Linked DNA regions of Homo sapiens. The protein of the gene in region 1 interacts with the protein of each later gene in a pairwise test. Each region holds a gene or a part of one and is shown in the gene's direction. Other genes may lie near its edges.

What was found. The genes of interacting proteins can lie anywhere in the genome.
Region 2: the proteins of ARNT2 (region 1) and NPAS3 interact in binary tests that used the Homo sapiens proteins (3 or more experiments, as listed by UniProt).
Region 3: the proteins of ARNT2 (region 1) and AP3M1 interact in binary tests that used the Homo sapiens proteins (3 or more experiments, as listed by UniProt).

The regions. Positions count from the first base shown.
Region 1 is NC_000015.10:80,407,354-80,414,405, forward strand, and holds part of ARNT2 (aryl hydrocarbon receptor nuclear translocator 2), read left to right. Parts: intron 1-7,052. UniProt on the Homo sapiens protein: Transcription factor that plays a role in the development of the hypothalamo-pituitary axis, postnatal brain growth, and visual and renal function. Specifically recognizes the xenobiotic response element (XRE).
Region 2 is NC_000014.9:32,941,848-32,948,899, forward strand, and holds part of NPAS3 (neuronal PAS domain-containing protein 3), read left to right. Parts: intron 1-7,052.
Region 3 is NC_000010.11:74,119,808-74,126,859, reverse strand, and holds the end of AP3M1 (AP-3 complex subunit mu-1), read left to right. Parts: intron 1-504; coding exon 505-712; coding exon of another isoform or gene 713-734; intron 735-2,335; coding exon 2,336-2,480; intron 2,481-2,949; coding exon 2,950-3,050; 3' UTR 3,051-6,605; downstream 6,606-7,052. UniProt on the Homo sapiens protein: Part of the AP-3 complex, an adaptor-related complex which is not clathrin-associated. The complex is associated with the Golgi region as well as more peripheral structures.

The DNA.
Region 1 (7,052 bases):
TCACGCTCATGTTACTCATGTTACTCTGTGGATATAATACAGGTCCAAATTTGGAATCTGCTCCTTCAAGGTCCCCTGTTGGGGTTTTAGGTTAGGATTCTACCAGCTACTCTGGGAGAGGAGAAGAAAGGATTGGGCTCCCAGATATTCTCCTCATGACTTCTGCTATGACAGTCCTGGTTATATTCCTCATATCCTGTGGCCCCTGGTGCCTCCTCCTTCTGGGTCATTTACAGTCCTTACGTTGGTCACTGAAACTGTTGTATTGGCTGATTTTCTCTTTTCTCTCTGGCCAGGAATGACATATATCCTTTAGACTAGAGAGTGAAGTCATAGAATCTTCCGTTTTGTGTGTCTGTGTGTGTGTGTGTGTGTGTTGTTTTGCTGCCTTTTTGAATGACATTTAAGTGTTTCTGATGTATAGGAAATAGTGAAGATTTGAATTAGTTATATACATAAAAGGGTATTTGCAGCTGAAATGGCACAATTAAGAAGGAGATTGTTTCCCCAATGTCATTGTTCCATCTTAATCTTTTGTAATTTAAGCATGAGGGAATCAGCTACAAATTCAGACCAGTAATCATTAGGAATTAAGCATTATGTGGACATTCTCTGAGATGAGTATTTGCAGAGTAATTAATAAGGCTCATATGTTTTAAAGGATTTCAAAATTATGTTTTAAGAGATTTGGAATTCCACTTTTTTTTCTGAAATCAATTATTGGATTTTTTCCCCACTTCCAGGTTTCTGGTCTTTGGCATTTCAATTTGGAATTAATTGTATAGTGCAGGAAGATTCTCTGGACAAATTGCCTTAGATGGAGGGACATTTGAATCAGCTTGTTGAACTGATTGGATATCTTTGATATGCCAAGCTGTCTGCAGGGAATAGAGCAATGTGGAGATGAGGGAGAATATTTCTTGACCTCAGGGGGTTCTAAGTCTACTAGGGGAGGCATAGGTAGACTAACTTAATAACACCAGGTGGAATGAAATGAACGTTGACTAGGCATGTTCATATCATCATGGGGAGCCAGAGGAAGTCTTATGGGAGGTAACTTCTGAACGTGGGCCTTTTGAAGACAGAGATTTTGACTTATAGAGAATTTAGGAATGGTCATTTTGCGCTGATGGCTGGCGTGTGAGGCAGACAAGATTTGTGAAAATATGGAATACTGTCAAGTGGTTGCTTCCTCAGTGCTCTTGGGGACTCAGCAGGACACCCAAGAATGTGGGTAGGTTTTGAGCCTTTGAGACGTGTGCGCTATGCTTGCAAGCTGTCCTGCCTTGAGTAGGGCTGGAACAGCCAAACCAGCTGGACATACAGTTGAGCCCAATTTCTCTATATCCTGTCCTTCATTGAATCTACGAGCCCATCAGTTGCAGGACACATCATTCTTTTATGGACTTATAAGAAAAAAATGAGCTGATGGCATTTTGGCTTTCATCAAAAGAAAGAAAAAAAGGAAGAAGTGATACCTGAAAAAAGAGATTTATTTATTCCTTCAGTATATATTTATTTTAATTAATTAATGAATTTTAAAAAGTTAATTTTTAAAGGCTCCTTTTTTAGGGCAGTTTTAGGTTCACAGCAAAATTGAAAGGAAGGCACAGAGATTCCTCATATATCCCCTGCCCCCACACATGCACAACCTCCCCCATGATCAACATTCCCCAGCAGAGTAGTACATGTGTTACAATTGATGAACCTACAATGACACATCATTATCACCCAAAGTCCATAGTTCACATTAGGATTCACTCTTGATGGTTGGTAGACGTTCTATGGGTTGGACAAATGTATATGACTTATATCTACCGTTATAATATCATGCAGAGTATTTTCACTGCCCTAAAAATTCTCCATGCTCCACCTATTCATTCCTCCCACTTCCGAATTCTTGGCATCCACTGATGTTTTTACTGTCTCCATAGTTTTGCCTTTTCCAGAAAGTCATGTAATTGGATTCATGCATTACGTAGCCTTTTCAAACTGGCATTTTTCACTTAATAATATGCATTTACATTTTCTCTGTATCTTTCAGTGGCTTGATAGCTCATTTGTTTTGGTGCCGAAGAATATTCCATTGTCTGGATGTACCACAGTTTATTTATTCATTCACCTACTGAAGGACATCTGGGTTGCTTCTAAGTTTTGGCAATTATGACGAATGAAGCTGCTAGGGGCTAATACTTACTGAGTAACTACTATGTGCCGGGGACTGATCTTGGTTCTGGGATCACTGTGGTGAGCAAATTAGGTATAACTCCTACCATCATGCTGCTTGCTAGCAAGACAAATAGTCACAAAAGAGTAACACAATTGGGTTAGTTATGAAAAGTGTAAATGTTATGAAGAAATGATCCCCTGAGATAAAATAACCAAGGGACCTAAATTAGAGGATTAGCAAAGGCCATTTGAAGTCAGTGAAAGCCTCTCTGAGGAGTTGACCCTTGAGTCAAGCTCCAAGGAATGATGAGAAATGTGAGGAAGAGCATTCCAGGCACAAGGAAGAGCCCCTTCAAAGGCCCTGAGTTGGGAAGAGCTGGAGAACAGGGAGCAAGGGTGAAAGCGGTGTGAGAAGCTGGAGCTGCGGTAGAGGCCAGCTCACGGGGGACCACTTTTGGGTTAGGGACTGAGACTTCATTTTTAAAAAGCGCTGGAAATCTACTGAAGGGGGTTTGAGCAAGGGGCATGATCTGACCTGCACTTTTAAATGCTGCTTCTGGCTGCTGTGTGGAGAGCCAATTGGACTGAAGCGGGAGGAAAAGTAAGACTCCAGTTAGATGGTGCTAACTTAGGTCAGGGGCTGTCAGTAGAGAATGAGAGAGAGGGAGGTGGATTTGAGTTATACTGGGGGCAGGGATGCCATGCTGAACAACTCCAGGGGCACCAGTTACTTCCCTGTCCATCCCTTGGGCACGACATGTCCTGCTTGGGGCAGAATCATCATGACTTCATTGTAAGGAGTTAGGGGAAGAGTCAAGGACGATTCCCAGCTTTCTGTCCAACACCTGGGTGGTTGGAGGTGACAGGAAGTTAGTGAGAGGCAGGGGGCCTGTGGGGTGTGCTCCAGGCTTCAGTATTGGACAGCTGAGTTGAGCTGCTTGTGCGACAAGCAAGTGGAACTGTCATGGAGGCAGTGGGACACATGCTCCCAGAGATCTGGGCTGGAGAAGGAAACAAAGAGGGATGTTGGCCAGCCATTTACCAGGTTCTCTAAATGCTTTCCTTGGGGTAAGTTAGTTCACAGAACATAGAGCTTTTGGTCCAAGTACCATAGTTCCCAAACAATGCTTGCATTTACTGCTTTATTGTCTGTCTTTATTGAGATTCACTAAGACACAAGGTCATAGGGAGATTATTTCTGCATCTTTTCCAGATCCAGCAATCCATTCATTTTTATCTATCTATCTATCTATCTATCTATCTATCTATCTATCTATCTATCTATCTATCATCTATCTACCTACCTATCATCTGTCTACCATCTCTCTCTCTCTCTCTCTTTCTCTTTCCCTCCTTTTGTGGGGCAGGTCAGGCTGTTGGACTAGCTCACCACACGAAACTCTTTGTTCAATGAAGAAAAGTTATTTCTCAGTTTTAGCCAAGCTCCTTTCCAATTGAGGGCTCTTGTTTATGTTGTGTCCCTCTTCTTGGAATGATTAATTGCTCACTGTCCCTCCTTCCCTACCCTTACCCCCTCCTCACTCCTAACCATTTTCCTGTCCAATTCCTACTTTTCTTCTGGTCTCAGCTTGAATTCTTACTCCATTAGGGAAATCTATCCTGATCCCTTTATCCAGGTAAAATGTACCTATCATGCATTCTTCCAGGGCCCCATAAAGCTGTACTTTGCTTCTGGAGCACTTCGCCTCATGTAAATTGTGCAGTTATTTGATTGATACCTGACTGGAAGCCCTGTGAGGGCAGGGAATGTATCCAACAGTATGGCAGCCCTGGCACCTACCATATTGCTTCCCATACAATAGATACCCAGTAGGGTTTTGTTAATGAATAAATGGAGGGATGCCAGGGAACTGTCTTTTATTTTGTATGTGGCTGCCTTTCAATGACTCCCTTGAAGGAAAGAAAGCATATATCCTATATTTGTGGGTCTCTGTAACAAAATAGTCCAGAGCTGTCTAATTGAGATTCTGACTTTTATTTGTGGAAACTGATTTTGATCTGAAAATCCTACCAAGATAATCCCTATGCAAACTAGTTCCTCTAGACTTTCTAATAAGGAGCCTTGGACACACAAAGCTCATCATTCTTCCCAGAAGAAGATTAGGTCAGAATTGAACAGTCGAATGTATTTATATATTTTTATTTTATACTGCTGTCCACAAAGGTTACACCAGAGGCTTAGAGAGGCTCAGAGACTTACCTCGAGTCCTCAGCAGGTGGGTGGGTGAGGAGGTCCTACACCTACCTGATACCTTGGACACACAAAGCTCATCATTCTTCCCAGAAGAAGGGTAGGTGATAGCTTGGAGACTGGCTGGTGGTAGTGGTAGGTTCCGTGTTACAGTCCCACAGGGTCTTCTCAGAAGGGAAGTGGGATCCTCCCATTTACTGCCTTCTGTGTTGTGTGTGAAACTATTGACATGGCTTGCTTAATTACCAGCAGTTACTGATAAGACAGACTCCAGGCTGGCTTTGAGATTCAGCCACCCCAACAGCATTCAGGAAGGCAGCAACAAGGTCAAAAGATGCATTCATTGCCCTCTGATTGAATAGTGCAGGCTTTAGAGTTGGAAGCTGAGGCTCTTTGCAGATAAGCAGAGACTCTGTGGCTGCCAAGTCTATAACAATTTGACCATTTTTTTCAGGGAAATCTACAAAAATGCCAAAATGTTTACAAATAGGTACTTCCTGCTTTTGTACATTGTATGAAAACATGGGACATCTCTTACTGTTTTGGTTTCATTGTGAGAACATACAAAGCAGAGGTTGGAGCTCTTCTCCTAGCCCCTGCTGAGGAGTTGGTTGCTTTCTTCACCACAACCACTTTTCCCCCACAATAAAGATCTGTGTTGATTGTAAAAAATTTGGAAAATGCACAAAAACACTAAGATAATTCTGCCACCCATAACTAACATTTTTGCGTATATCCTTACAGACTTTTTTCTAAATATTGTGTGTGTGTGTATATATATATATATAACAAAATAGAATTATTTCGAGCATATTGCTTTGTCATCCCTTTTTTCCCTTCATTAATGGTATATCCTATCAAGGATACTGATTTGAGAAGCTGCATATATTCTGTTTATGGCTGTGTCATAATTCATTAACTCACATTCTTATATCTGGGCATATAATATTTGGTGTGCTTTTCTGTTTGCCAGAATTGTACACACCATTGTATTGAACATCCCCGTATATGAATGAATATATGAATACATGATTTTTTCCTTATTGTCAATTCTTTGAAGTAGAATTGAACAGTCAAATGGATTTATATACTTTTATACTGCTGTCCACAAAGGTTAGAACAGAGGCTCAGAGAGAGGCTCAGAGATTTATCTGGAGTCCCCAGCAGGTAGGTGGATGAGTAGGTCTTACACCCAGACGCTGTGCCCCCTATCCTTGGCAGGTTCCGGCAACCCAGGCCAGGCCCTGTTGCCTGTAAGTCTGGAACTCAGATCATCTACTGATGTCTATAAAGGGCAACTGTGTACCTTTCCTGGCCTCCTTTCAGTGATTTAATAATTTCAGTGGCTTTTTAATTAACTGCTGTTAGGGTAATTGGTCCAGGTCAAAACAGGCAGGAAGTTGCCTTACTCAACAGGCAGAGAGCCTCTGATGGCCTCAGTGGGCCGCTGCAGGGGCCCCATGACTGGGCTCTCCATGCCAACCTGGGTTCTCATCTGAGGCCCCATTGTTCTCCCTCCACCCCCTCCCTTACCAATTCACCTCTTCCATATGGCCTTTCTCAAACGCTGGTGCCACTAACTTACCCAGAAACCTTTGCTCACCGTCTATTGTCCACACATCCTCCTAGGATTGACCTACACACTTCCAACCAGACCACCTGGCTGACAGGGTGGTCCCAGGGCTTAGAGAGCATGCGGCCAGGTGATTTCTGGTCCTGCCTGCCTGCCTGTGATACCATTAGGCAGGCCATGGTGGTTATTCCTGTTTCAAATGCACATTCAGGAGTTGTTAGTAACTGAGGATAAATGTGTTTGTTTCTGATTTGGCCATCCCTACTTTTCTTCCAACAACTCTAAAAAAGTGGAGAGCAGCTGCAGGTGGAACTAGGCATCTCTCTATCCAGGCTTAGGTGGCAAAAGGAAAGACTCTGAGGTAGGACAGCCTGGGAAGATTCAGGGGTGCAATGTCCAGGGTGGGAGCACCAGAGGAGTTGGCCTGAGTGGAAACCCAGCTCTTCGGGTAGAGCCAGGCCTTCCAAGAGACAAATTAGCTGAAGGCCTTACTGGTGGCTGAGCGAGGGAGGTGGGGCCAAAGGAGAGGAGGGTGGCCTTCCATATACTCTGCCTGTTGAGTAAGGCAACTTCCTGCCTGTTTTGGCCTGGACCACCCAATTACCCTAACAGCAGTTAAAAAAGCCACTGAAATTATTAAATCACTGAAGGGAGGCCAGGAAAGTTACACAGTTGCCCTTTATAGAGGTCAGTAGATGAGCTGAGTTCCAGACTTAGAGGAACAGGAAGCCAAAGTTAATTGGTGCACCAATTTTTAAATTAATAGCCACACAAAATAGTATTGTCTTTCTTATCTTCAATAGACCTCTAAGTTGGGTGGCAGGACATGTGAGAAACCTGGGCACAGAGGCCAAACGTGTATCCACACAGTGCTTCTCAACTGGGGGCATTTGCAATGTCTGGAAACATTCTTGGTTGCCACACCTCCAGGGAGTAGGGGTGCTACTGGCATCTACGGGTAGAGGCCAAGGATGCTGCTAAACATCCTACTGTGCACAGGGCAGCCCCCACAGCAAAGAGCTTATCCAGCCTCAAATGTCAATAGTGCCAAGGTTGAGAAACTCTGGTCTATGGGAACAAAACTCTGTAGGCCTCTGG
Region 2 (7,052 bases), on another chromosome or scaffold:
CCTTATCCAAACAGTTGTTTTATGCCCCAAGGGTTCACTTTGTTGTCAGGGTTTTAAATGCTCTTAACACTTTAAGTGTAAACATTACACATGTAAGTTGATTTGGCTTTGTAATGAGAAATGGGAAATCAGATGATTTGTTTAGGAGGGGGCTGTTTTTCATACTTGCTTCAAGTAAGTGAGTAATTCCACCTTTATTTGCACATTGTGCCTAGAACTTGTTGGTTAACAAGTATTTCCTTGTAGCAGTTGAACACAAATATGTTTATAAAAGATGACTTTCTGTGGATATGTTTTAAATGGTATCCTCCTATTTATTTAAAAAAATGTTTTCAAAATCATTGATTTCACAGAGGCATTTATGGACAGTTTATTCTTTACTGCTTTTCAAATATATTAGTAATCTGAAACTTACAGAGAAAAATATATCTTTTGAATTGTCTCATTTATTTATGAAATGTCTAACCTGTGTATAGTAATACAGTACCAAAGTCATTTCCTTATAGTAATGTTTATAATGTAAATTTCAGAAAAATAAGCTCGTTCTTGATAATGTCTTTGGTTACTATTTAGTGCTCCTTACATTTCTCTGAATTACATATACAGAAAGTGTCTCTTTAGAGCCTGAAAGAACAAGTTGAAAACCTTGTGTACATAAACTTGTTTGATTTTCTTTAAACGCCAATAGACTGCAAATTATATAGCACTACCACAAAGTTTTTCTACTATGTGGATGTATAACCAAAAAAATTAGACAGAGAGAAGTGTCAAGCATGTGATATGCCCATGCTGATTTGCAAAGCGTATCCCAGTAGCACAAGGCTTTTGGTTTAAAAAGTAAAGGTGGTGGAGACTGGTTTTTGGAGGTATTTCTATCTACAGTATAAGCTTAAATAGGGGTGATAAATGATTATATGCATTGTCTAACACTTGCTTATATATATAAATAGCTCCACAAGATTGCTTAAATGATAATCGAAAATATGAAATAGGATGGCCTTCATATCACAAGGCCAAGGGTCTACAAATGGAAAAACTGAAATAATGAAATATTTCCAAGGCAACAGACTGTCAACAAGAACTGTAATGCATGGGCATATCATGATCCACCAGAGAGGATATTAGATCGTATAGCTCCAGAGCCAGGAGTTATAATGACCTTTATTATGTAAGACCCTCCCTCATTACAACATCTTTTCAGATTTCCAATTTCTGATTTATGAATTGAAAGACATATAACTACTCCACATGTGCAATATGCCAATCACTAGATTTGATTCCTTACAGTGAGCAAATGAGCAAACTTGAATTCAACATTATTCGATACTTTTTTTTTTTTAAAGTTACATGAGGTGTTTTCACCTAGTAGTGTTATTAGTAAGGTTTTGGTTTCTGTGTCTTTATATAGTCTTAAAAATATGGCTAAAAGTGATGTGTAATTAATATCTCAGCAATCAATTGGTAAGACTTATACTGTACTTCAAATATAATCCAGAAATTGGAGCAGTTTGATAATTTTAGTCATATGAATTTTGATCTTCCCCTGTAATTCTTCTACCCAATGGCTGGCCCTATACTATAATATAGCTATTTTATGAGAAGGCCAGAATACTTATGAACCACCTTACTCCTCTTCCCTGCCCCAGATCCTGGTCTGGGATTCAGTGCTATGTTACAATTGTGTCTGTTTGAAGTAGGACCTGCTGCTAGGATCCCCTGCTCTGTGGTGAGGTTTTCTATGGCTTCTGTAAAGCAACACTTTTGGGGAAGCATTATTTATTTTCTTAAGCAGTAGGTCTTCATATTTGGGGATTTCTTTTTTGTTTCTTTATTTCTTTTCTTTTTCTTTTTTTTTTTTTTTTTAGACAGAGTCTTGCTCTGTTGCCCAGGCATGCTGGAGTGCAGTGGCACAATCTCAGCTCACTGCAACCTCTGCCTTCAAATGATTCTCCTGTCTCAGCCTTCCAAATAGCTGGGACTACAGGCACATGCCAATACGCCCAGCTAATTTTTGTATTTTTAGTAGAGATAGGGGTTTCACCATGTTGGCCAGGCTGGTCTCAAACTCCTGACCTCAGGTGATCTGCCTGCCTCAGCCTCCCAAAGTGCTGGGATTACAGGCGTGAGCCACTGTGCCTGGCCTTTATTTGGGGATATTTATGGAGAATATATTACAAAAGTTTCAAAATCCTTTTAATGCTTTCCTCTACTAACTTCCTTAAGTGCTTTACTATTAATAATGACCCTAATGTAACCTTAATCTGTTTTTGTTTTTCTACAATTCTAGTAAACCTATGTCTTATGCAAAATGTCACTAAATTTAAAGAAAATTAACACTCATGAAAGCAGAGGTAGCTCCTGCCACCTCCATGCTATGTTTACACAGTCACTTTTTCTGCGTATAACATTTAATCATTCTAATTGATTTTTTAAAGTTCTGCATTGTATTTGGGCTACAGTCTAACTTCAGGTGTTTTATAGACGTGTCTTTAATTGCTTAGGATGAATAAGGCTGAAACTTAGTAAATAAGTTAGTATGTTAAATTTTACTTGATTAAATATTATTCTTTAAATTTTAAATGCTATCAAAATTGCACATAATGGAATATGTGAAACTTTAAATATATCTATGATTAGTAAGAACTAGAATTTATCAGAAAATCCAATTGTTTGCATTCGGTGATGTTAGTATTTTCCCAGTAAATAGTGGCCTTTTTTCCCCCCTCATTGGTCAGTGTAATAAACCAACTGTAACTGAATGGTATTTTTACTGCGCTGAGCCTCATTAGTGTGAATAGGATGTTTGCACTATTAAGTTTGATAGAATAGTTAGAAGAATGTGTAGTAATATTAGTAATACTACAATGCATAAACAGGACATGGCTTAGTAAGAATAAAGTAACTGCTACTGTATCTGAAATGACTAGGGCAGTGACAACATTAAACAATAGTTGAAGTTTTCTGTATACATTTGTAAAACATCACGTCTTGGTGAATTAATTGAAATACTGTGGTCTTGTATGTGAAATCAGGGGAAGCAAGATGAAGATCTTATGTTACTATGGCCCACAGTTCTCCTGGCCCTAGACTGTAATGATTGACTGGTTCTTTCATTCAGCTTCATTTATTGAACCTCTACCATGGACCGTGGTTATGCGTGCCAGGTACAGTACTAAATATATACCTTGTAAGAGCAGTTGCTTTGGTTGTAGGCTTGCCCTTCTATTGGTTATACAAAATATTATAGAGAGCCAGAAGATACCCTTTTCTAAAAGAGTAAGAAGTAATGAATTCATAGAAATATAAGGCTTTCTTTTTTCACTTCTGTTAGCTTAGTGTTCTGTGAGGATAGTTATTCAACTTGTAAAATATTGTAATTAGTGACTACAAAGTGATTAGAGGCTCCTGGAGGACAGAGAGAGAAAAGATACTGTATAAATTGAAGTGAAATTGTAGTAAATTTTATAAAAGTTATTTTGATGGGATTTAAAAATAAAAATAGGTTATATACGATGATGATTATATAATAATATAAACATTGGACACTGCCATGTTTCAGACACTATATTACATGCTTCACAATAATTTTCTCTTTAGTTTCCCCACTGACCTATGAGGGAAGTGCTAATATCCCCATTTATGCATGAGAAAATAGAGGTTTAGCATTCCCAAGGAAGGTGATAGAGACTGAATTCAGGTTTGTCTCTCAGGTGAACTTAGGCAGTACAGTCTTTGTAGAAATGTACCTTAACACCAGTGTGGAAGGGCCTGCGTTTTCAGACTTTCCAAACTCAGAGATTTCCGAGCCAATATCAGAGAGTTCCAATGGCAGAAAGACCAGTTCACTATGGGTAGTGAACGATAGCCCTCTGTTTTGGTCCTTCATCAGATGTTTGGAGAAATACAGTGTTTATGAAATTAGAGAAAGAATCAATATTGAAAGCATCGTTACCTCACCCTTTACTATCCCAGTAGTTTTGTGGGCAAGCTCCATAACTATACATACTTCAGGGCAGATTTGTAGCTGAGTGGTGCCAGAAGAATCAGTTTGCCACGTACATCTGCCTCTTTGGTCACAGCATATGAAGTTCTCAAGGCCCTCTTCTGCTCATATAATTCATGGCTCAGAGTGTGCCACAAGTTTCTCTAAAGATTATAGTTGAAGCATTTTTATTTTGTGATAGTTTTGCCACTGGTTGTGTAAAAACTGTCTCATAAGGCTTTCTGAATAACTCATTTTAGTACCTAACTGTATTTCTGGACATTGTCTTTTGAAATTTGTAAGGATTTGTACAAGTTGGCCTCCTGCCAAATTATCTGGCATTATAATAATGGCAGCAAGCATTTATATAGCATCGTGTGCTAATAAACAGGTACTCTTCTGAGAGCTTTACATGCATTCACTCATTTAATTAAAAACATGACATGTTAAAATGGGCCACAATAAATACATAAATGGTAAGTTATTTACTCCCCCATCCCCCCAACACACACACACGCGCACACACACACACACACACACACACACACACACACACAGAGTCATCTTCAAGAAGGGAAAGTTAGCCTTTGGTAACTTTTTTTCCTCTATGCCAGGAACCCTAGGGTTGGTCTGATACATAACAGTTCTTTAACAAAAGCTGTACTTTAGGAAACTTTGTAGCGTGTGATGTGGGTGTTCATTGCAGAATATATGCAAGATCTCAGTAGCAGACAAACATGCCACATTTATCTTTACGTTTTTGGATGTAATATTGTCAACTAAATAGCTTCTTTAAAAATAATAGGTATAATAGAAATTTCGGGCTTAAAAGGACTAGATAAGAAGTGCTTGAGTATTTGTGATTGCAAGATAATTCGCTTGTGTATTGGATTCATTTTTTACATTCAGCAAATATCTTGTTTATGAAAGGATAAGTTGCCTTTTAAGTTGCAAAGGACTTAAAATTTAAAGGGATATTTTACTGAAATATTGAAGATAAAAAACAAAAGTCAATAGGAAGTATAAGTGAAAAATAGACTACAAAATTTTTAACCACCATCAGATCATCTTAAAAGAGATTACATCTGATTACATTATTATATTATCATCAGTATGCTAATGCAGAATTAAAGGGCTGTGAGTTGGGTACCTAGTGTAAAACATTAAACTTACAAATCTTAATTGCATATTTTGGAAAGTAGTGTCCCACAGCATTTTAAGACCACTTTATAAACTTATAGGTCATTTCAATAATATTTCATTATATCTGATGAACTAGGGCATTTTCATTTGTAAGATTTATAAAAATAATTTTCTTATAAAGAAAAATTAATATTGGATTAAGGGTCAATATAAGTGTGAATATAGCTATAATTAACACTCTCTTCCCCAAATCTCTGATTTTTCCTTTCTGCTACAGTAACACTGCGGAAAAGGATGCTAGCTCTAAACTTCATTCAGAAGCACTTTAGCTCAGAAAGATGGCAGTATTTCAATGGTGGCAAGTGGAATGATTGAAATTGTTTGCAGAACTTCTCTCTCTGGTCCTAGAAAATGGAGACATGAATGAATATGGATATTTTATTAACTAGTATGTATTGTGCTGATGGAAGGGGCATTTTCCCTTTACAAATATAATTTATTCATCAGAATCCACTTCTAAAAACATATATATTCTATTCAGGTATATGAATTTTTTTAATTATACAAGATTTTTGTATATAGTGTACACAGCATATATATGTCACATGATACACACATATATATACACTGTTTACAACATAAATTATATATAAAATATGTATGAGATATACCATGTTTGTGTATGTCTATCTAAAATGGAAAAAAGTTACAAAGATATCTTGAACATTATAAATGTCTTACTTTAGATTGAGTTAAATTTAAATGTATGCAGTGGATTGGTGACTTTTTGTTTTCCTAATGCTGTAAGGCAAAGTAGGCTCATCATTTTTTTTTGCACATTTTTATTGTTCTGTGTAAATGTAATTTGTTAATCCTGTGAAATTTGTCATAGATAAATTTGCTTGGATTATCTTGTCACCACCGTATCTGCATTCTTTTGTTCATTGCTTATTCATAATTTAACAGTCTGGCAGTGAGCCTTTTTGGGATGCTCACAAGAGATATATGACCTCTTCCAGCTGCTACTATAACCTGCAGAATGCACAGCAAGACATTAGAAACGTGAGGATTCCTCTACTGATTAAAGTGCTCTTCATTTAAACAGTCTGTTCATAAGAATCTCAGGAATCTCTTGCTACCAGCAGTTTTTAGTTTTTTCTTCCTAACAAAATTAGTTTTAACAATTGAATCTTCATTTGCTATGAATTTTTCAGATTATCCAAAGGAAGTTAATTTCTTGAATGCTGTTTCTTCTTTATACATAAATACTTAAAAAATTTATATTTTGGGGATGTCAAAGTTGTCCAAAAATGGTTTTATTGGGCAGTGAAGAATGTAGAGTAGATATATTGCATCCTAATCTTAGAAGAAATGGTTGGTTTAATCCTGTTTGAATCTAAGAACTTTACAGTTTATATTCAAAACACTCCATATTATGTAGTATGTAGCAGACATTAAAAATAAAATGTTACTTGAAGTATAACCCCATCTTTAGGTTTTCATTATTCTGAATTAGTTTAGCATATGAATTTATTCTTTTCTCTCTCTTTGCTTCTCTCTTTCTGTCTCTGGAAATCAGCAGCCATCAGTTTACGAGCAATGGTTAGTTTTTGCCTCTCTCCTGTGCAGGCATATGATTATGGTTCAAAATAATTCATCGCTAATCCATGCAGTATTGGTTCATCTCCATCACTCTGTTCTGTGATTAGAGCCTCAGGCCTGCTGCCTTGCTTTCTGCCCTGATTTTCTTTAACTGCAACCTTTGTTTTAATATAGTTCTGTAGTCACCACTCTCCTACCAGCCCCTCTCCATTCCTCATATATATCGATTGCGGTAGATTAATATTTATTTGAAGCCATTTTTCCAGACTTTGAGAAAAATGTATTCATTTCTTACTGTGACCCTTCATCTAAAGGGAGCGGGGAG
Region 3 (7,052 bases), on another chromosome or scaffold:
AGCTGGGACTACAGGCATGAGCCACCACACCCAGCTAATTTTTGTATTTTTAGTAGAGACGAGGTTTCACCATGTTGGCCAGGCTGGTCTTGAACTCCTCACCTCAGCCTCCCAAAGTACTGAGATTACAGGTGTGAGCCACCGCGCCCAGCCCTAGCTAATTTTTGTAGAGACGAGGTTTCATCATGTTGGCCAGGCTGGTCTCAAACTCCTGACCTCAGGTGATCCCCTCCCAACCCTGGTCTCGGCCTCCCAAAGTGCTGGGATTACAGGCATGAGCCACCACGCCTGGCCAATTTTGTGAAATAATATTTTCAATCCTCAGCTGGTCAAATTCAAGGATGCAGAACTGTGGCTACAGAGAGCCAACTCTGTAGTACCTTATTGTGGAGTTAAAGGCAGGGTAGGATACTCTGGACAGAGGTTTTCAGGATACCTCTGGAGCTCTCCCCACACCATTAATTGTGTTTGTGCTTTTGTATCTTTCTCTGTTTCTCTTTTTAGTCTAGTGGCAATACCAGTGTATGTGAAACATAGTATCAGCTTTAAGGAGAACAGTTCTTGCGGCAGATTTGATATAACAATTGGACCAAAGCAGAATATGGGGAAAACTATTGAAGGAATTACAGTGACAGTTCACATGCCAAAAGTTGTGCTGAACATGAACCTGACACCCACACAAGGCAGCTATACATTTGATCCAGTCACCAAGGTACAGCCACTTCAAATCAAGAGTGAGCAAGTGTTTCTGCAATCTATTTTGTGATTTGTGGGGAGGAATGGAGGGAAAGGTTTGGCACCTTGTTTAAAACTAAAGTTCGTATCAAAACCTAGAGAGCATACTGTGCTGTGCTTCTGCCACTGGCTGCAGAAGGAATCCTGCAGCTGCTACTGAGTAGATGAACAGAAAAATGTGTCATTCTGTCCTTTTTCAGAGTGTGCCTTCACTCATCCATTATTAATCCAGAGCCTGACTCTGCTATCTAATAAGAAAGAAGTAAAAGCTTTTTTAAAAAGAGAAAACATTATGTAGATTGAAGAAGATATTATGATGGTCTATGAATTACTAAGTTTTCTATATAAATTGATCACTAAGACCTTTTTCTTCCTTTATAATTTAAAAGCATTATTTCATACTCTTTCACAGGGCTAGGAAAGTTGCTTCCTCACTCTACTTAAATTTTTGTGTAACAGAGGGTTTTCAGAGAAACTGTAGCAGATGATTTTCTCTCAGCTTCCTGATTAGCTGGTAAATATGATTGTTTTCAATAGCAGAGTCATTGAGCTACCTGATAAATGAAAAGACATGTTTTTTGAATAACATCATAGAATGTTAAAGATTATTTAATACAGTTGTAAGGATTCAAAGAACCTCCTCCTGGAGACCACACAGGGCTGAGAAAGGGAGCTTCAGATTCCTGGCCCTTTACCACAGCTTCAACTATGACAGCTTTGCTTTCTTTCTCATCTGCTGTTGAGCCTTCACACCGAAGATTTCATTTGAACAATGGGTTTCACAGCTAAAAGTTTTAAAAACACCATCTTAAGTCAATCTAATTATTTTACAGAAAAATAAACAGAGGCTGGGCGCAGTGGCTTACGCCTGTAATCCCAGCACTTTGGGAGGCCGAGGTGGGTGGATCACCTGAGGTCAGGAGTTCGAGACCAGCCTGACCAACATGGAGAAACCCCATCTCTACTAAAACTACAAAATTAGCTGGGCATGGTGGCGCATGCCTGTATCCCAGCTGCTTGGGAGGCTGAGGCAGGAGCATCGCTTGAACCTGGGAGGCAGAGTTTGTGGTGAGCCAAGATTGCACCATTGCACTCCATCCTAGGCAACAAGAGTGAAACTCTGTCTCAAAAAAAAAAGAAAAAGAAACAGGCCCAGAGAAAAGTGAAGATGGTTATGATGGAGAACATTTGAAATCAGAGGGCCTTAGGTTCAAATCCCAGCCTTACCTCTGACTAACTATGTGACCTTGAGCGAGTCATTTGATCTCTGAGCCTTAATGTCCTCTGAGCTTTAATTTCCTCATTTGTAAATAGAAGACAAAAGCTACTTCACAGCCCTCAATGAGACAACATATGAATAATGCTAAGCACGGTGCTAATACAAAAGAAAATGCTCAACAAATGTAGATTCTCTGCTCTCACTCCCCATTCAAAGTCACAGAATTAATCAGAGGTAAACTCACTGTAGATGCCAGATCTCTTGTTTTCAAGAGACTGCACTTCAGTTTGTACAGAAGTTTATGATATCTTTGAACTTTGTTTTTGAGGGTTTGTCTTTAATAAATGGTTCTATTTGTTTTTCATTTTTTGTCTTTTTAAGGTACTAACATGGGATGTGGGAAAAATTACTCCACAAAAGCTCCCAAGTCTTAAAGGACTGGTAAATTTACAGTCTGGAGCCCCCAAACCAGAAGAGAATCCGAGCCTCAACATACAGTTTAAGATCCAGCAGCTTGCTATTTCAGGTAAGGATAAGGTTGACTTGTAGTTAAGGGTAATTGAGTTTTGCAAGCTCATTTATTAGGCATTTAGAAGAGTAACAAAAGTTTCCTTCTCTAGAAAGAGCAGTAGCCCATTTGCCTTTTATACTGTGCTTGGTGGGGCAGTCTCACAGGCACCGACCAAATGATTTTTCAGAGCACCTTATTTCAAACAGCTTCCCCTCACCTCCGCCCTCATTTAAGCACCAAAAAGAGAGTTATTCATATTCACAGAAAGTAGAATTATACTTCACAGACATTCCCTGCCTGTGTGGGAATCTTAACCAAAACCATACCATCAAAGTGCAATAATTTGTAAATGATAGAAGAGACATTTCTTCCAAATGGTGGAAGGGACACTGGTTAATGTCAGATTTACCATATAGCGCTCATTGCTAACATTATATTGGTTGGGATGATGATAATTTATTCTTTTTCATTCTTTTTGATACAGGCTTAAAAGTAAACCGTTTGGACATGTATGGGGAGAAATATAAGCCATTTAAAGGAGTCAAATACGTCACGAAAGCTGGAAAGTTCCAAGTGAGGACATGAGAAGAGGCCAAAATTCCTCAGGACCAGTTTGTTTTCCAAGTGTCATTACGATGTATCACTATTAGGTACCAAGTGAGTGGGAATACATATTCTAGTTAAAGCATTTGTGTCTAGCTACACACCGCTAACAAAGTTACTTAGTTATCAATGTAGGATTCTTAAGGAGCTTTAAGCTAAGGAAACCTTTTAGTGACTTAGCTTATTTTGTATCTTTTCACTTAGGAAGATTTTGGAGGTGATTTTTTTCCATAGGAGGATACCATCTGGCGGCTGCACATTGTAACAGTAAAGGCAGAAAGCTGTAGTGATAACCTCTCTCCTAAAAGAGTTAACTGGTCTCATCCAGCAGAAGCTATCTTAAATCTGTGATGTGTCAGGTGCAGCCAAATATCACACCTTCTGATCTTAGCCATCCCAAACCAGTATCTGTCCCGAGAGGAAATTCCCCCCACCCCCAGAAGTTTACAGAAAACTGCCTCTTCAAGTGTTTGCCTTATTCAGCTTTTCACTTGTGCCATTAAGCAAGCACTGTAGCAAAAGCCACTTCCACATGGCCCTGGCAGGGAGCACTGCTGCTCCATGCTCCATTCTCACTGTACTTGGTATTGTATTTTTTATAAATAAGATTTTTATGTAAAGCTTAGAATTTGATTTACAGGGACCTTGCTGCAGTAAATACCATCTCAATTTTGTGCCACTGGTTCAGCTGTTAGCACAGTAAAAAAATCATTTGTATCAAAGGGGCAAATGCTTTATTAAGGTAGTAAAAGGGAACATTACTTCTGCTTTTAGGAAGTTACTGCAAGCACAAGCATTTGTGCTTTTAAGCAAATTAAAGTAGTAAAAGAAAAACTTAAGTGAAACCTTTGCCATCTTCATGTTTTATAATATAAAGCTTACCCAACACCAGTTAAGCCATGGTTAACCTAAATGCCTCATGCCCCAGTTCAGCAAAAGGAGGAAAATGTGCCTGCCTCACAGTCATCAGTCTTTTTAAATCTTTTTTGTTGTTGTTCTTAAGGGTTTGAATTTGTCTGCATTCCTTGTCTTTAGGGGAAATTCCCTTTTCATATTGTGTGCTTCCCAAAGCTATAGTCATAGATTTCTTCCAGAAACTATTGTCATAATTGTCACTGGAGTGCTTAAATATACGTACTATACTGACAAAATACATGGAAGTGAGTTATAATGAGGCAGAAACAAAATCCTCGGTAACATTGATGATACTCTACCGATCACCGTGGTTTTGGAAAGTCAGTCAACAGTTGTATTATTGCACTCAATTTCATTGTGACATTTTATTTAACTTCTTCATCTTGGTGGTCCTTGCCCAGTTATTTTGCCTCATTAGACATCAAGAAATGGAGAAAGACTGAAAGTTAATATCTTAAGTGCTTGTTCTTCATGTTTCCTTCTTGTTATTTATGCTATTCTCTTTGTGGCTCCATTCTTCTTTCAATCTTCTCAGCTTATAACCGTCTTTCCCTTATGCTAAGGATAGCCCTTACACTCATCCCATCTATGCTGTCAAGGGCTGCTGGTTGGTGCTGGTACAAGGAGCCCACTCAGCAGTTTTCTTACCTTTGCCTGCCCTGCCTTTCATGGAATAAGAAAGGCAACGTTTTGCAGCTTCCAAATTTCTGAAGAAACTAATCTCAGATTGGCAGTTAAAGTCAAAATGTTGCCAAATATTTATTCCTTTTGCCTAAGTTTGGCTACCCGGTTCAATTGCTTTTTATTTTTAATGTCTTGACTCTTCAGAGTTCGTACCTCAAAAGAACAATGAGAACATTTGCTTTGCTTTCTGCTGAATCCCTAATCTCAACAATCTATACCTGGACTGTCCAGTTCTCCTCCTGTGCTATCTTCTCTTCTATCCAAGTAGAATGTACGCCAGGAGCTCCTTCCCTCTAGCAATTTCTACTAAAATGTCCAAGTAGAATGTTTCCTTTTACAATCAAATTACTGTATTTATTAATTTGCTAGAATCCAGTAAATCATTTTGGTAGCTCTGGCTGTGCTATCAATAAAAAGATGAAAGCAACAAGTTGATTTTTTTTAGGTCTACTATTGATTGAACATTCTCCAATGGGCAAGGCTCATTGTCAAAGCAGGGTGAACATGATCAGATTTTCTTCTGCATCATCACACAAGCTGCGAGTGTTGCTGCAAAGCACTTCTCAGTACTCCTTCCCTAACCTCAGTATGTTAATAGCCATTCATACTTGGCTTAAGCATCACCATTCTGGCCACAGTCTGAGAGATTAGTGATCAAAGCTCCCTTCCCTATCACTACCACCACCTACTGATAACAAAGATTTCTGAATACTTAGTAGTAGTAAAATATTTTTCAAGCACAGAGTTACAGCTAATCCTGGATCACTTGTTCTAAATTCATAAGGGAGTATATCAAGAGCAAATGAAGTAAATGATTCTTTCCTGCGTGTGGGAGTCACCATCATTTTATTCAAAGGGAGTTCCTGTGATAGGTTCATTCCTTAAGTGGTGCTACAGAAGGACCCTAGGAAAATGCTGATCTTGTCCTGAGAGGCAACTGATTTGAGAAAATGATTATACTACAGCAGGAAGGCAGCACCAGTGAACATATGGTAAATGGCAAAAACAAGACAGTTTTAGAAACTGCTAATTCAGTAGCAGCCTTGGCCTTTCCCTTAACTCAAGCAGGCTGGAATCTGTCTTTATAGTCGGCAACTTTCCAAGATAAAGCAGTGATAATAGCAGTTGGCAACACTAAATATCAATATCATCACCCTTTAATGACATGTTACCCCTTTCAGATCTAGAAAATCAGGGAAAAAGTGATGTCCCAACTCTACTCTAAAAACCTGCTCCTACTATTTTAGTCAGTGTTTCTTTAAGGAAGAAGAGGACTATGTCCCCAAAAGCTAACTCTGTTTTATAGCCCTGGTGGATCCCTGAAAACCCTATTTATTCTATACTGGGCTTTGGAATATGAAAAATGGACCTGTGTGGCCGGGCGTGGTGGATCACACCTGTAATCCCAGCACTTTGGGAGGTCAAGGTGGGCGGATCACTTGAGGTCAGGAGTTCGAGACCAGCCTGGCCAACATGGTGAAACTCCATCTCTACTAAAAATACAAAAATTAGCCAGGCATGGTGGCGCACACCTGTAATCCCAGCTACATGGGAGGCTGAGGCAGGAGAATTGCTTGAACCCGGGAGGCAGAGGTTGCAGTGAGCTGAGATTGCACCACTGCACTGCAGCCTGGGCAACAGAGCAAGTCTCTGTCTTGCAGCAGGGGGAAGGACCTGTGGTACTCCTACAAACTTAACAACTTTAGCTTTTCGGGGAACAGTGGTGGTCTCCACAGATAGCTAGAATCTTCTAAGATGAAAATAAACTGTTTCATCCAGCTGCTTTCTGCCTGTTAACCTTTGCCACTTCCATTCCTTCAAGTGTGTAATCCCCAGGGTTGTCTTGTATTACACACATCCTTGTTAAGTAAATATACCACTGTTGATTTCTTCTTCCAGTGCAACATTTGGATTAAATAAAAATCTTTAGTTTCCAGATCTTGAGGATTAGTTTCATTGACTATTCATCAAAACAAAGGAGAAACCTGACCTAAAAGTTCTTGCTAAAGTAACATATCCATCATTTAAAGCATTTTTTATACAAATGCATTTTATTGTTTTAAACAGAACAAAAGAAGAGGCAGAAAATATTTGCATATAACAAATCCTAGCTTATAAATGTAGTTTTTTAGCGGTGATGTCTCTAATCATCATTCAGGGATTTTTTTTTTTTTTTTTTTTAATTTGCTTCACTGTGTCTCGAGCACTGATATTGGAGAAAAGCACATCCGGCATAAAGTGTAAACCAGTGTCTCAAACCACTGGAAGAACCGGGAGAGCAAACATGATTTTTCTTATTTCCTCTAAGTAATCTTTCTTTAGTAAAACAACAAGTGATCTTTGGCATAGATTCATACTTTAAAGGCATTAATATTGCATTTATAT